Regions from separate parts of the Homo sapiens genome. Here region 1 is linked to region 2. The links come from fine-mapping of genetic effects on gene expression. Tissue or cell type: whole blood. Region 2 holds a variant in brackets; the other region holds the start of a gene. All regions are shown on one strand. Distances are between the middles of the regions.

The links. PIP is the estimated chance that this variant, and not a neighbour inherited with it, causes the effect.
Region 1: it holds the start of NEURL1B, and the variant in region 2 is fine-mapped to the expression of NEURL1B in whole blood (TOPMed, PIP above 0.99).

What each region holds. Positions count from the first base shown.
Region 1 is chr5:172,636,469-172,644,638 of GRCh38, forward strand. It overlaps NEURL1B (neuralized E3 ubiquitin protein ligase 1B), which reads left to right and starts at 4,795. Exons shown (of 5, transcript NM_001142651.3): 1 at 4,795-4,969. The coding sequence starts at 4,939. LOC107986478 (a long non-coding RNA gene) reads left to right here. Exons shown (of 3, transcript XR_001742996.2): 3 at 1-2,010. RefSeq lists a silencer at 4,557-4,846.
Region 2 is chr5:172,680,632-172,688,815 of GRCh38, forward strand. It overlaps NEURL1B (neuralized E3 ubiquitin protein ligase 1B), which reads left to right. Exons shown (of 5, transcript NM_001142651.3): 3 at 2,788-3,507; 4 at 5,540-5,665; 5 at 6,050-8,184. The coding sequence ends at 6,294. LOC107986479 (a long non-coding RNA gene) reads right to left here. Exons shown (of 3, transcript XR_001742997.1): 3 at 5,674-5,906. Among named protein-coding and RNA genes, the nearest start is that of MIR5003, 23 kb to the left of the region's middle. RefSeq lists enhancers at 2,546-3,046, 3,047-3,547. The variant G/C (reference allele first, on the strand shown) is at 3,716.

The sequences.
Region 1 (8,170 bases), 44 kb before region 2:
TCATCCTTTTTTATGGCTGCATGGTATTCCACAGTGTATATGTACCACATTTTCTTTGTCAAATCAACTGTTGATGGACACTTAGTTTGGTTCAATGACTTTGCTATTGGAGCGCTGGTTTTGAAGCCCGAGGGATGCCGGCTCCTGGCTCCTCTGCTCACTGCTGTGCTACATCAAGCAAGTGGCCTCATCACCGGAGCTTGTTTCCTCTGCAGAGAGGACTAAGAACCCTCTGAGTTCTGCCCCCTTCTAGCTGTGTGACCTGGGCAGCTCTTTTCCATCTCTGAGCTTCAGCTTCCTCTCCTGCAAAATGGGAATTGACTTGTGTTAATGACCATGCCGCCATGCTGGGACAAGGATCACTCAGAGGGTGTAGCGTGGGGCCCACTATGCGGCTGGCACTTTGTAACCAGCAACTGAAAAATGATGCTTTTTCAGGTAAAGATCTGTTGGAAATTGAAGGTTTCGTAGTCAGGGTTTGTAGAAAAGCACAGCCTTCCTGCAGCCATTTTAAAACCGAGCTTTGCAGTGTGACTGCAGATACTCGGCTCTTGAGTTGTGAGGAGGAGGCTGGGCAAACACCCTGAAGGAAGGGGTCATTTCACGCAGGTATCTGCAGTGGGCATACCCCCTAGCCTGGCACAGCAGCTCAGTGTGCACCCTTTTTACAACATGCACCTGATTGCCTGTTATTGCATGGGGCAGGGCCTGCCAGGGCATGCCCCCAGGGAGCAATGCCAGGGAGCCCGGCCAGGGCACTCCCACTACCAACTGCCCCGGGAGGCTCTGCTGACGCTGCATAATCAAGAGAGACAGCCCCACCCAGAGGCCCCTGCAGCCCATGTATGGGTACTGGTGCTAAAGGAGGGTGGCACAGTCTGTGCAATTCTGGATGTGATTGGTAGAGATGTGTATGTGTGTGAAAGTCAAATCCAGGAGCTGCTGTGACTGGAGGCTGCTGCCCGGGCCGGAAGATGTCCCCACCCCATGCTCTGCCCCACAGGCTCTATGGCAGCCGTTAGTGTCTGCGGGTTCTGGTTCTGAGACCCCACCCGTTCCTCTGCAGCCCTGGTGTCCTGCCGCCTTGGCGCCTGGGCAGAGCTGTCCTCTCTAACTTTAAGGGACACTGCTTAGAAGATGAGGCTTGGATATGGGCACACGTAGGTTCACATCCCAACTCCTCTTAGCAGCTGCAGAGACTTAGGCATGTGACTTTACCTGTCTGAGGCTTGGTGTCCTCGTTTGGAAAATGGGGATGCTAGAACCTATCTCCTTGGATGTGGTATGACTATAATATTTGGAGAAGGAAGAGATTCACATTCCATCCCTGTGGTTATAAAGTCTCCTGTGCGGCAGGTGCTGAGTCCAACAGTCCCTTCCCTTCCCTTGTTGCTGTTAGACATAGTGCCTGGATCCCAGGCCCCTAATACATGCAGACAGCATTTCCACAGTGTCCCGGCCAGCCCTGCTTGGGAGCTAGTGGGAAGAGGTGAGATTGGGAGAGGCAACAAAAATGGGAGGCCCACATCCCAGGAGATCAGCTTGGTACACAAGCTGCAAAGACAGGGGAGCACCTCTGCAGTCCTCTCAGGGTCAGTAGAGGCAGGACCAATCAGACTCATAAACCTCAAACCATAAATCACCCCCATGGCTTCATGTGGGTTGTAGGGGCTCAGTGGATGATTGTACTGGAAGGTATACTTTAGAAGACATGTGACTCAGGAAGCCCCTCCTCAACTGCCTGGCAGGAAATATATGGTTTCTATTTGCACACCTCCTGGGACAGGGATCTCCCTCTCTCCCAAAGCCACCCTTCCACCTTCGTGGACTAGCTTTGTCCTCCTTCTCTAGTGTGGTGCCCAGAGCCAAAGCGACTTCTGGAATGGTCTAACCAACATGCACTGGAGCAGCAAGCCCCTCCTTTGTCCTAAAGACTATATTTCTGTTAATGCATCCCTATTTTGCTCATTTGCTTATTTTTCCCTGCACATATTACTATTCATCACACCAGGGTCTAGGGCTACTAATGGCAAAAACTCATTCTCTCACAGCTCTTTCTCTCCTCTCCCTTCTTATTACCTTTCTCCATTCCTTCTTTCTTCCCTCTCTCCTTCTTTTCTGTTTTTCTCTCAGCTCAGGGCAATGCATCTCTGCAGTCAATTTATGCAAATGTGTATTGAGCACCTGTGTCTGCCAGCCCTGTTCTGGGCACTGGGGTTTCCTAGATGATTACAGCCTTCTTCCTGCCTGCAGGAGCATCCTGTCTGGCAGTGGAGAGGACGCAAAGGTAACAGCTACAACACCTGTCTTGAGGGTGTAATTGAGGGGACAGCACAAAGTGCAGAGGGATCTCAGATGGGTGAGCAACTGCTGTATGTGCCCAAATATAAGGTAATCCAAGTAAAGATTACAGGCAATCCCCATTCTCCCTATGAGAAGATGCACTTTCTTATTGAATAATATAAACTTAATGGGGTGAAGATGAAATAGACATCTACTTGAAATATTTCATTTATTACTTTAGTTATATAAACATATTTGCAATTATTCTCATAGAGAATACTAATATGGAAAGATTGCTTTTGGCAGTTTCAAATTTCAGGAAACAATTTGATTCTAATTCTTTTCTGTGTGGCTTTGACACTAGTGTCACCATCGTGTGTGTTGGGGGCAGCTTTTTACTAGAGCAGGTCCTACTCTCAGAGATCCAGAGGCTAACACACAGCCCTTTCGAATCCACATGTCAGGCAACTGCTGGGCACAGTGTCTCCACCGCAGGTCCAATCCGCATCACATTTTGACAGTAGGGATTCATTTGCTGCAGGTGAGTATTTGTGATCTGCACAACATGGCCACTTACTGAGGTACTCTGAAAGTGGCCTTTAAAAGGCCTGTTCACAACCTCTCACCCTTGCCGTCACAAAGTCATATTTGTTTGCATTGCCTTATCTGAGGAAAATTCCCTCAATTCCCTTTATAATATTGCTGACCTCCATATGCAACCCAATGTCACATAGATTAAAGGAGGATCAGCCAGGTGAGGTGGCTTAGGCCTGTAATCCCAGCACTTTGGGAGGCTGAGGTGGGGGAACCGCTTGAGGTCAGAAGTTTGAGACCAGCCTGGCCAACATGATGAAATCCCATCTCTACTAAAAATACAAAAATTAGCGGGGCGTGGTAGTGGGTGCCTGTAATCCCAGCTACTCAAGAGGCTGAGGCAGGAGAATTGCTTGAACTTGGTAGGCAGAGGTTGCAGTGAGCCAAGATTGTGCCATTCCACTCCAGCCTGGGTGACAGAGTGAGACTCTGTCTCAAAAAAAAAAAGAAAAAAAAAAAGGATCACGCTAACGGACCTTTCTCAAACAGAACTTTGGGGTTAAAAATTAAGTCACTGGGCGAGCACCTGTAATATGAGAAATTAGTAACTCAAATGCAAGGCAATCTTATGTTCAGACATATGACGTCAGGGGGGAGTGGGGAATCAAGGTTTCCCGGAAGTGGAAGCTTGGAGCTGGCCTTAAAGACCCTAGAACCCTCTGGGATGGGTCATGTACTGTAAGCAGAAGGCACCGGAGATGCAGAAGGCTGTCTCCTGAATACCCCGCTTTTATTCGCATAGCTTCAGGCTAGCTTTGCCCTGTACCATTGGAAGATCTTGGGCACCTCTCTTCCACTCTCAGAGCCTCAATTTCCCTATCTGTGAAATGGAAGTAATAATACATATTTCATAAAGTCTCAAGGGATACAAGAGCATGAAAAATAGAATTGAAAAAAACAGCTCATTTGGAATCGGGTCTTCTTGGGGAAGTCATTGCACTTCCTGGGCCTCAGCGTTCCAGCCTGTGAAATGGAGCTCGAGAAGGGCACAGCTGCACTTCCCACTGAGTGTGGTCCAGGTGCCTGAATGAGGAATGCCTGTTACTGCCTCTGCCAGGAACACTCTACCTATCTCTTCTCATGGCCGACGCCTTCTAGTCCATCAGATGGAGCTTATGTGCCCCCACCCCAGATTCTCCCTATGCCCCCAAACAATGTCATCTCCTCACTCTACTGGGATCTGTTTTATTTTCTTCCTGGCTTTGATTATTATATAATGTGATCGTAATTGCTTGTTATTTCTATCTTCAGCATGCCATCTCCAGGGCAGTGGGGACCTTGTCTGTATCTACCCGGCCCAGCACAGTGCCTGGTGCATAGACTGTGCTCAATAAATATTTTAGTGAATGAGCGAATAAATTAATGAATGTGGGTTCCCTCTTCCCAATCTTTGGACACTGGGTTTCTTCTATTCCTCGGTACCTGGCCTAGGGGATAGAAAAGACTCCACCCAAACCCGGGAACCCTGGGTGTACTGTCTCCAAGCCCTTTACATGGTCCCAGGGGCCCGTCTGCCTCTGTGTAAGTTCCCCCGGGGCCGAAGCACTCTCCAAAGAGGTCTGCCGGGGCTAGGACTCGGCCGGCTGGGGCCCCGCGCCTGGAAGAGGGCCTGGCACACAGTGGGCCTTCTCAAAGTGTTAGAACAAATGGGTGACAGGCCAGCAGACTGCCGATCCTGGCACCCGAGGGCACCCAGCTGCCCTGCGCGCCTTCCCGGCCCGGGCGCGGGAGCGGCGAGGGCGGGAGGCTTGGCTGTGCTTCTCCCGCCGCCTGGTGCAAACTTTCAAAAGATGCGGCGGCCGCGGCCCCGCCCCTGCACTGTTGGAGGCGGTGGGAGGCGGGGGCGGAGCCGGCGGGCCCGGGCCGGTGGCTCCGCCTCCTCCTCCCGCAGGCGCCGCCGCCGCCTCCCTCCCGGCTCCCGCCCCAGCTGCCGCCCGCCGGCTCGCCCGTGCAGCTGCGATGCCCCGGAGCGTCGACCCCGGTCCTGGTCCCTGGCCCGCCGCGTAATTAGCCTCCGCGCGCCCAGAGCGCGCCGCCGCCAACGCCGCGCCCGACGCAGCGATGGGCAACACGGTGCACCGGACCCTGCCAGGTACGCCGGGGAGCCCTGCCCGGGAGGCGGGCGCCGGGCTTCTCTCCTCCGGGGGACCCGCTGGGTGACTCTGGAGAGCTACCCCACGGCCCTTGGAGCCCTCGGCTCGCAGCGGGCTGGAGTCTCCGGTACCTCCCGGACCTCAGCTCGGCGCGCGCCCCGCGGCTGGGCTTTGCGCCCCGGGAGGGCGGGTACCGCGTCCTGGTTACCTTGGGGACCCCAGTCCTCATTCTCCCGGCTTTGGCCAGATGCGCAAAAAGGGCCGCTGGGGCGATGCCGCGCGCCCCCTCGCCTTTGTTCCAGCCCGAGGGCGCTGATGAGCAAACTCAAGGCGACCTGGGTGGGGGTGACTGGAGCCGGGCTCGCCAGGGCTTCCGACGGTCAGAAGCCACCCGTGGTGCCAAGACTGCAGCTGCCGAGAGTGAGGGGTGCTCTCAGGGGCACCCCAGTTTCCAGCCTCCCAGCGCCCCCGCGGCACATGCTGCCGTGCTTTGGCCACGTTCCCACGCGCACCCCGGTTGCGCCCCCCTCTGGTGTCCGCTCCACTGGGGACTCCTTCGCCCCCTCGGAGTCGCTGCTGCAGATCGCATCGCCCCCTAGTTAAAATCGCCCCAGAATTTCTGGGACCGGAGTGAGGGGATCCGGAGCAGGTTAACGGGGTAGGAGGAGGCCTTACTGGAAAATACATGGTAATTGTGGGAACAGATCAGCGGTCCCGCGCCCGCGCGTGCCCGTGGAGGTTCAGTGCCCAGCACTTTGCATACCCCAGCTCGGTATGCAAAGAAGCTTCGCGATAAAGATGTGTATCCCAGTTTTACAAATAAAAAAATTGAGTGTCAGAAGAGGTGAAATGACTCACCCAAGGTCACACAGCTAGTAGTGGGAGAATCTGGAGTGGGACCTGTGTCTCTCTGCCCTCCCTCCCCTCACACGCCCAAGTATTTAGAAGTATTTTGTCTTAAGGCTGGGCCTTTGTAGCATCCTTTGGGCAAAAGGTGAGAGGAGTGTGTGTGTGTCTAAAGCACAAAGGCTCGGCTCAATGGGGAAGCAAGTCAGCTGTGAGGTTAATTTAGTGTGAGGTTCTGGAAGAGGGACATATCACCCCATCTCTGCTATAACACTCCCATATAGCTCTCCCTTCTAGGCATTACATGCTCTTAAAGAATAATTTCCCCTGGAGCGGGTTGAAGTGGACAGTGCTGAGCCCAGGATTCCCAGGGTCAGCTTATGGAAGAGGAGCCAACTCCTACTTTACAAGCCTCTGAGCAACTGCACTCAAACGTTCAAATTCCCAGAGAGCTGTAATCATCAGCAGAGTCACCAGCTAGTCAGTGGCAGAGGTGGGATTAGAACCCAGGTCTGCTTACTGGAGGGTGGCCTCTACCTCCTGTGGACAGGGCTATTGCCAGGTTGGGGGAGAACCCACCCGCGGGTCAGGAGATATCTGGGGATGTTGGCAAATAGGGCAGCAGATATTCTCGCCACATAGACACTGGGATGAGGCACCTCGGCACAGGCCCCTTTCCTTGGTTTCTTAATTTAAAAATGTTTATACTATTCTAGTAAAAAGCCATTCTGCCACCTGTGGGTCAGCCCTGGGGTGCGTAAAGGGACAGACACACGCCAGGCAGGCTAAATATAGCTAGAGATTTATGTATTCTCCATCCCTCTCAACTCTCTCTCTGTGGACTGGGCCACCCTAGTCTGGGAGCCGGCAGTTAAGGTTGGTTACCCACTGCAGTGTCTAAGTATGGGGAATTCAGACTCTTCTCTGGGGATTGAAGCTTGCACTGAGTTTGAGGAAGGGGTCAGAACCGGAATTCCTGAGTCACATCGGGTGGCAGATGCCAAGAATATGAAGGGCCGTTAATTGTTTTCCGACCTACCAGTATGAGTTTCTTGCACACCCTGTGCTGTTTTTTGTACCTCTGTGCTTGGCATGTGATGGTCCCCATGCATGGATTGTCCTTTCTTGTCTAGTCTGCCTTTCAAAATCCAGTTGTCGTTACCTCCTCCAGGAAGCTTTCCCTGACCACCCACAGTCTCATCCTTTGCTCTGCTATCTGGATGCCTGAAGTCCTTTCCTGCTCATCGTTGCAATGACTGCATTGTCACTGCCTGTCTCTGTGACTCTTTGCGGTTCCCTGAGGACAGAGCCCTTGTCTTGATCATCTTGTATCCCTGGTTGCCCATCCCAGAGACTGGTGCCTGGCAAGGGCTCAAAAACTGGTGGTGGAGCTCGAATGTTGCCTGAATCTTAGGCTGAAGGAACACTTGGCACAGTCTTGCCCTGTAGAATCCTTGTGCTTTCGTTCTCAGGAAAAGGACACATGCGTGGGGTTCTTTCTGCGGGACTTGAAATAGAGAGCTGGCATTTGCTGAGCACCTGGATTCCATGCCAGGCTTCCTGCATATGTGGCTTCATTTACACGCCAAGCATGCTTCTCCTCAAGGCTTCTGCACTTCCTGATCCCTCTCCCCGGCACATTCTTCTGCCCTCCTCCCCATGGCTCCCACCAGGCTTCCTTGGGGTCTCTGCTTGAACGAGGGGCCTGCTGTTGCCCCAACCCCACTCACTCCTTTGACCCAGCTTTAAGTTTCTCCTTAGCACGTGTCACTATGCGACACGCTGTATGTGTAGTTAGCAGTTTCTTGTCTGTCTCCCCCAGGGAGATTTTGTCTGTTTTATTCACTGCTATACGTTTAGCACCTGGAGCAGTGGCTAGTACAGAGTAAATGTTCAGTAAGTACGTGTTGGATGGGATGAATGGATGAATTTAATTCTTCTAACATCCCTGCAATGTAGGCATTATCATCTCCATATTACAGTTGAGAAGCCGAGGCTCAGAGAGGTAAAGTGGCTTGTCCCAGCTCACACAGTTCACCTAGTTGGCAGAACTGGGATTGCAATTTAGGTTAACTTAGCTCCAAAGTCCTGCATTCTTATTCTGACATGCTGTGGCCTCCCAGCCCGTGATTTAGATAACATTTATTGGGTTCCCCACCATGCACGTGGCATGCTACACTATACAATAAGGAAATGCCAAAGAAAGGGAAGGTTGTTTATGATCGATTGCGGAAGCCTCTTGGCAGCTCTTGCAAAGTGCATCAGCATATTCAGAGAAATGCCCTTTAAACAGAACGTGCAGCACAGGACCTCACATCTACTAAGCTCCTACTGTGTGCTCTACACTCTCTTTC
Region 2 (8,184 bases):
AAAGAGAAAACTAGAAAACTATAAGAAGCAAATTTCTACCCAGAGATAACCACTCACATTTTAATGTATTTCTATATTTTTCCTATGAATCCTATGCACACATTTTCCACAAAAGTAGAATCAAACCATGTGTTCAGTTTTGAATGTTTTGTTCATTTGATGTTATATCATAGGTATTTTCCCATATTATTAAATATTAATTGAAAACTCAATTTTTAAAAATATTTTTTCCCATAAAAATTTGTAGCTGTATTAGTCTGTTCTTGAACTGCTATAAAGAACCACCTGAGACTGGATAATTTGTAAAAGAAAGAGGTTTAATTAGCTCTTGGTTCCGCAGGCTGTACAGGAAGCACGGCTGGGGAAGCCTTAGGAAACTTACAATCATGGCAGAAGGTGAAGGGGAAGTAGGCACAGCTTACTCGGCCAGAGAGGGAGGAAGAGTGTGAAGTGGGGGAGGTGCTACACTTCTCAACAACCAGATCTCGTGAGAACTCGCTATCATGAGAAGAGCAAAGGGGAAGTCCACTCCTATGATCCAATCACCTCCAACACTAGGGATTACAATTTGACATGAGATTTGGGTGGACACAAATCCAAACCATATCAGTAGCATACAAGTTTATTGAAGGAAAACTAGATAATACAGAAAAATCTAAAGAAAAGTCCTTCATGATCTCACCCCAAGAGATAATTACTATTAATATTTTGTCTCTCCATCACTTGATTTCCTATGCACATAAATAAAATGATACAGACAGATGTAGACAAATGCACACATATGTACTTTTTTAAAGAAACAAACTGAAACCCCACTTCTTCCCTCGAGCTATGGGAAGCACCCTCGCTAAGGCAAAGCATACACACTCAGATGCCCAGAGTCCAAACAAGTAGCTGACCCCTTTTGCTGAGACCTTGAAGAGGGCCACCTCAGGCACATCAAGAGAGATCAAACCACCTCAATACAAGGGCAAGCTTCTTTAGCCCATTGTGGCCAGGGCAGAATTCAGGTCCTACTGCCAGATTTACTGGTTTCCCAAGTGCTATAAATCCAGTTTAAGTGAAAGGTGTCTGAGGGGGTGCATTTGGACCCACCGGGGCCTGGGGCATAATTCGAAAAAGCATGTGCATTCTTATGATTTCATTTCATATTTGGAAAACTAAAGAGGAAATATTTTTCAAGACACTATAGAATGGTAACATTTAACAAAATCTTGGCTCAAAGTGGTCTGTTTAAAAAGTCTAAAACACTTATTTTCCTATTATGGTAAACAAAAATGTTTGTATCACTAAAAAACACCTTCACAATATTTTAATGACTCTTTCCTGATGTTGTTGTTATTTAGCATAGCAGTCTCTTCTAGACCTTAGTCGTTCCTTCATTCATCCAATAAACTATTAATAGTGAAGGCTATTTGCCAAGCCCTGAGAACATGGTGGTGACCAGACTGACACAGACCCTGCCCTCAAGAGACTCATATTCCAGCTAGGGAGGCAGAAAATAAACAGGTAATCTACTAAAGTACGAATACCTGTATTACCCAAATGATAAACACTATTTTTGCTTTTTTACCTATGTCATATGAAGAACATTTTTTCAAATCACTAAAAAGTACTTTAAAATATTTTCATAACTGTAACTTTTAAAGAACTTTCCCTTCGGCCGGGCGTGCTGACTCACGCCTATAATCCCAGCACTTTGGGAGGCCAAGGTGGGCAGATCACTTGAGGTCAGGAGTTCAGGACCAGCCTGGCCAACATGGCAAAGCTCCGTCTCTACTAAAAATACAAAAATTAAGCCGGGAGTGGTGGCAGGCACCTGTAATCCCAGCTACTCGGGAGGCTGAGGCAGGAGAATCACTTGAACCCAGGAGGCAGAGGTTGCAGTGAGCCGAGATCGCGCCATTGCACTCCAGCCTGGGTGACAAGAGCGGAACTCTATCTCAAAAAAAAAAAATTTCTTTTCCCTTCATTTAGTTTTATCAACTGACTCAATCTCCCGTAGACTTTTTTCTGTCAATGCTTAAACACCTATCCAGGGCCAGGCACTGTGCTCTGTGCTGTGAACACAGCAGTGAGGACAGACCCAGGTCCTCCCTTCTTTCAGAGGCAGCATGTGTTGAAGAGCCCAGACTCTAGAGCCAGACAGCCTGGGTTCAACTCATGGGTTCAAGTCGGGGCTTTGCCACTTAGTAGCCATGTGCCCTTGGTCATGTTCCCCAACCCCTCTGTGCCTCAGTTTCCCTGTGAGCTCAATAGCAGGCAGTAACCGTACATGCCTCACAGAGTGGTTGTGTAAATTAAATGAGGTAGCGCGCGAAAGCTTAGAAGTGCCCGTTGCGTAAGGCCACGAGTACAGGTTTGCTCTTTTTATTGGAGCTTATGTTCTAGTTGGGGAGACGGACAATAAACGATTTTTAGATGCCCTTTTAATGATCAAAGTATGGAAACCTCGGAAAGAGGGAGAGAAGGGGAAAGGGTGGAGAGAAAAGGAGGGATGGAAGAAGAGAAAGGAGGAGGCAGGGGAAAAAGGGCCTTATCTGCCGCTCCCAAAGGTAAGAGCATGTCAAGGAAACCGAGGATGGTGCTTAATGCAATTCTGTGCTCCTGTGACTCACTAAATAACACAGATGGACAAAAGGAGAGTTCGAAGCCGGGGTGGGGTGGGGGCTGCTCGAGGCCCGGGTCGGTCGTGGAGGCCTGCAGGAGGCAGCGGGCGAGGAGGGGCTCGCGACCAGCCTGACGCGCGGCCTCTCCCCCTCCATGTCCCTCCCTTTGTCCGCACAGAGAGCGCCTTCGCTGACACGCTGACGCCCGCGCGCCTCAGCCAGGCCCGCTTCAGCGCCTGCCTGCCGCCCAGCAGCCACGACGCGGCCAACTTCGACAACAACGAGCTCGAGAACAACCAGGTGGTGGCCAAGCTGGGCCACCTGGCGCTGGGCCGCGCCCCGGGCCCACCGCCAGCCGACGCCGCGGCCGCCGCCATTCCGTGCGGGCCCCGTGAGCGCCCGCGGCCCGCGTCGTCGCCGGCGCTACTGGAGGCCGACCTGCGCTTCCACGCAACACGCGGGCCCGACGTGAGCCTGTCGGCCGACCGCAAAGTGGCCTGCGCACCGCGGCCCGACGGCGGCCGCACGCTGGTCTTCTCCGAGCGCCCGCTGCGGCCCGGCGAGAGCCTCTTCGTGGAGGTGGGCCGTCCGGGGCTGGCGGCGCCCGGCGCGCTGGCCTTCGGCATCACGTCGTGCGACCCGGGCGTGCTACGGCCCAACGAGCTGCCCGCCGACCCAGACGCGCTGCTCGACCGCAAAGAGTACTGGGTGGTGGCGCGCGCCGGGCCCGTGCCGAGCGGCGGCGACGCGCTCAGCTTCACGCTGCGGCCCGGCGGCGACGTGCTCCTGGGCATCAACGGGCGTCCGCGCGGCCGCCTGCTGTGCGTCGACACCACGCAGGCGCTCTGGGCCTTCTTCGCCGTGCGCGGCGGCGTCGCGGGCCAGCTGCGTCTCCTCGGTGAGTCCCCGGCCCCGCGTGCGCGAGGCCCCGCCCCTCCCCCGTCCCGTGCCGTCTCACCCCGCTGCGCTCTTCCCCGGCCCCGCCCCTCTCGCTAGGCGCTGCACCGCCCGAGGCCAGCCCGCGGTTCCCAACTTTAAGCGCCCGGGCACGATCCACCCCGTCCAAAATTGCCGGACTCCACCCCAGAGTTCCGGATTCAGTGGGT[G/C]CACGGTGCGCCCCGAGAACGTGCATTTCCGACAAGTGCCCGGAGATGCTGACGTTGCGGCTCTCTGGACCACATTTTGTAAACCACCGACCTAGATAGGTAACCGGCTTATCTCCGAGCTTGGCAGGCTATATCCCCTCGGTAAATGGTCGGTGCGATTTTTAGTTCCGTTGTTACGATTTGTTACATTAGGGTGTTTTTAACATGTAATGCACAGTAAGTGTAGGGAAAAAATAAATTCGACTGCACATGAAAGAGGAAATAAGAATAGTATCGTCCACAGAAAGTGGAATGGAGGCCTGAACCATCCTATTTTGAGATAATTTTTGCCTTCATTCATGCCACAAATAGGCAGGAGCAGCCACCAGCTGTGGGCCGGGCCCTGGGCACCAGGATAGGGCCAGCAGAGGACAGGACACACTCCATGCCGGTTAGGAGCTCACAGACACCCTAAAGGAGAGTTGCACGGTGTGACATTTGCTACAGCCGGGGGCTCCTCTCCCAGCTTGGTGGAGTGAAGGAGATGTTCAGAGAAGGCTTCCCAGAGAGCCTGGCTCCAACTTCATGGCTCAAAAAGTAGAGTCCAAGCAATAAGAAGCAGTCAACAGCTCATATGTTCCCTCATTGAATTTTATCCTCCCTTTGACTCTATTGAAATCAGTATCATTATCCCCACCTACAGATAAGATAATGAGCACAGAGAGATTAAATGACTATCCCAGGGTCACATCGCTGGTCAGCTTTGAAGATGCTGGACAAATCACAGATTCTCCTGAGCCTGTTTCCTTCTGTAGAAAGAGAGTGATACCTGCTTCATGGGGTTGTCATGAGGATGAAATCATGTGCATATAATGCCTTGAGCGGGGCCTGACACTGGTTTAATCAGTGGTAACAGTAACAACAGCAGCTGTTGCTGTCTTCATGAGGGCAGAGGAGGAGCCGGGTGGCAGTGTGGTTATTTGGTCAGAGTGTTTTTTGGGGAGGGGGAAGTTGTGTTGTTTTGTGTTTTTGAGGAACCATCAGACATAGTCATCATTTCAGCCCGAGACGAAGTGCCCATTATCTGTCCATTCATCCTCAGGTAGGGCAAGGGAAGGGGCATCTTTTCATCCTAAGAAACAAGCTGTTATTGTCTGAACCAACAGCAAGCTTGGGGAAGAAAACTCATCCATGTTGAGCACTAGTAGTCAGGGATCTTCTCGCAAGGGGCAAAACCCCACTCAAAGTGCCCTAAGCAAAAAAGGAAATGTCTGGGAGTATATTGGGTGAGTTCAGGAATAGCTGGATCTAGGTACTGGAAGGATATCAGCAGGATCCTACCTCTCTTTCCAACTCAAAGCTCTGCTTGCCTCTGTGTTGGCATCACTCTCAGGCAGGCCTTTGCCACGGGTTGGCTCTTCCAGCTCCAGGCTTCCTTCCCAATGAATGGAATGAGTTCCTTCTTTCCTAGTAGTTCCAGTAAAAGTTGCAGAATTGGGTCTCGGGCCTTACGGGGGTTATGTGCCCTTTCCTGAACCACCACTATTGAGACCAGAGAGTGGAAGTTCCTGTTGGCCTGGCCCTTATCCTATGAGGGAGGGCACATTAGTATCCCAAAAGAACATCCCAGGGCTGTTTCTGAAAGAGAAGAGAATAGAGGCCTGGTAGACAAAGAACAGAGGCACCACACTGGGATGCACTCTTCACTCCTCAGCAGAACCCTGGGAGATACCTCTGGTCCTCTCGTTAGACGGGAAAGCTAAGGTGCAAAGCAGTGAAGAACCATGGACTAGCAGGGCAGGTCCAACCTTCCACTGCCCCTGATGGAATCTCTTTGGGCCTCAGGTACCCTGCAGTCCAGCCCTGCGACCACGACTCCATCAGGGTCCCTCAGCGGCTCCCAGGACGATAGTGATTCAGATATGACCTTCAGTGTCAACCAGTCCTCCTCGGCATCTGAGTCATCCCTGGGTAAGGAAATGCAAACCCTGGCAGGGGCAGGGGCTGGCGGCTGGCCTGGCTCCTCCGGCTGTGCCAGTGGCCTTCCAGGGACTGAGCAGGGTGGCCGCCTTTCCCCCGCATCCTCTCCTTCCCTCAGCTGTATGCTCAGCTGGAGGGAGGAGAAGTGTCTAGATAGGGCATTCCAAAGGGTGACGATGGTGGCATTTTATCTTGGTGTTTGGGAGTAGAAGAGTAGAGAAAGGTGCAAAACCTGCAAGGTAAACTCAAATTAGTATCTCCCAAAAGTATTCTCCCACCGGTCCCAGCAAGAAGCCCTGCATTCTCGGGGTTGCCCCAACAGAGCCCACCTGAGAGAGACATTGTTAACATATGTCCTCTTCTCCCTTTCGGCAGTGACGGCCCCCAGCTCCCCGCTGAGCCCCCCGGTGTCCCCCGTGTTCTCCCCACCGGAGCCGGCAGGCATCAAGAATGGCGAGTGCACGGTGTGCTTCGATGGCGAGGTGGACACGGTCATCTACACGTGTGGACACATGTGCCTGTGCCACAGCTGCGGCCTGCGGCTCAAGCGACAGGCCCGGGCCTGCTGCCCCATCTGCCGGCGGCCCATCAAGGACGTCATTAAGATCTACAGGCCATAGCCTAGCCTGCCCACGGGCCTTGGCCGGTGCAAGGTCACCTTTCTGAAGGCCCCCTGGGCTGGGCAACCACATGGCTGCCAGGGAGTCCACGGGCAGCGGCCATCTCTCCAGTGGTGGGCAAGGTGTGACAGTCGTGGAGCGAGGCCCACAGGGCCTCAGCCCAGGCAGGGGTTGCTTCTGGCTCCAAAGTGCTTTGCCCCCAAAAGGCCGTCCCAAGAGCAAGCTCAGGAACTGCCTGGCAGATCACCCTGTCCCTTGGTGACCTTTCAACTGGGAAACAGCGTCCTCTGTCTGTGCAATGCTTCTTGCTGGGGTTGGGTTGAGTGTGAGAGAAGGGGAGGGGAGGGAGGGAGAACAGAGAGAATGTGTGTGTGAGAGAGAGAGAGAGAGAATGAACGTGTAGCGATTTTACCAGGGGTCCCGGCTCCGGGAGGAGACGTGCAATCCGGAGCCCCGACATTGGCATGACTAGAAGTTGTTCACTTTCTGGGGATGGGACATAAGCTGGTTTTGAATGTATGAAGCTGACCCTCACAGAACTCCCTGGGGTGGTGTAGAAAAGAGATGCTCAGATTTTCTAAGGGGAGGCAAAAATAACTCATTGTTTACAGCTCCAAAGCATGAACTCCTTGAGGGGAAGGTGGGTGAAGAACAATTCACTTCTTCATTTCTTACTGGGTCTTAGAGCTGGGTGTGATGGGCACCGAGGCCAACCCCTCTGGATTGTGTCATCTTTTCACCCCTTCACCCCCAGACTGTCTAATAATACACACATCATACCTTGTCTCCGTCTCTGGAGGCAAGTCTCTGTAATGCCCTTCCCTATCTCCAAGGAGAAGACCAGCAGTAAGTTCTGTTTTTCTGTGGGAGAGAAAGAATCCTAGAGGCAGGTGACCCACCTGGAGCTGGAAAGCCCACTCCACGATGCAGACAGCTCTCTACCTTCCTGTGGTGGCCCCTGGGCCTGGCATTCCCAGGGGACCTGCTGGCAGGAGGAGGAACGAGGGCTTTATAACTTTGGTTATAACTTTTGGTCTTTGTTCTGATTCTCAGTGTATCTTCCTCCGCTGGTTACTAAAGTGTTCACTGATAAGTATGTTAACTAATGATCGAGACAGTAACGAAAAATGCTGGCACTGGGATTCTCTCCCTTCCCAGACCTACCTGCTGGTATTTCCTGGGACCTTGACCCTGCCCCACCCCCTCAGCCGTGCCCATCTCTGCAGACTCCCAGATCACATCTGGGCTGATGGGCTGGCCCAGGCCTGTCCCTCCCTTCTTGCCCCCAGTTCTGGGCTCCACCTCTGCCCTCTTCTGTGCTGTCCCATTAGGGAAGTCCCTTGGCCTGTCTATTTTTCAGTTCCCAATTAGAAGTCTAGAACCTGACAACTCCAGGAGTTCTTGGGAGGACCAGTACAACGTTCTAAAAAGCCTGAGACGCCTTACAAAAAGCAAGTATCATTTGGAGTACAATTCCTAATCTGTTCATGTCCTGCTGAAGGAGGGAAGGAGGGAGAGGAAGGCAGGGGAGTTGATGCATTCATATAACAAACACTGCTGGGTGTCTGGGTGCCCAGAGCAAAGCTGGGCCAGGCCTTCACCAGATCAAGCCCCACAGACCAGCTGGTGCCCATGCGCTGCTGGTGGTTTGGGGCCTCCTGTTCCTCCTCTAGCTGGGAGTAATCACAGTTGTCTGACCTGATTCCAACTTAAGGTCCCCACTCTCTTGCCCCATCAAGAATCCCTGATTATTTACTTTTCCCTAGAAAATCTGGGGAAATTCCCACATTTTAATTTTGCAGCAGAATCTTTTGAGCAGCTTTTGGAACCACAGTGTTTGCCAAGATAAGAGTTTGAGAATCCAGCAGCCCTGGGTGCCTGGCTGAATTT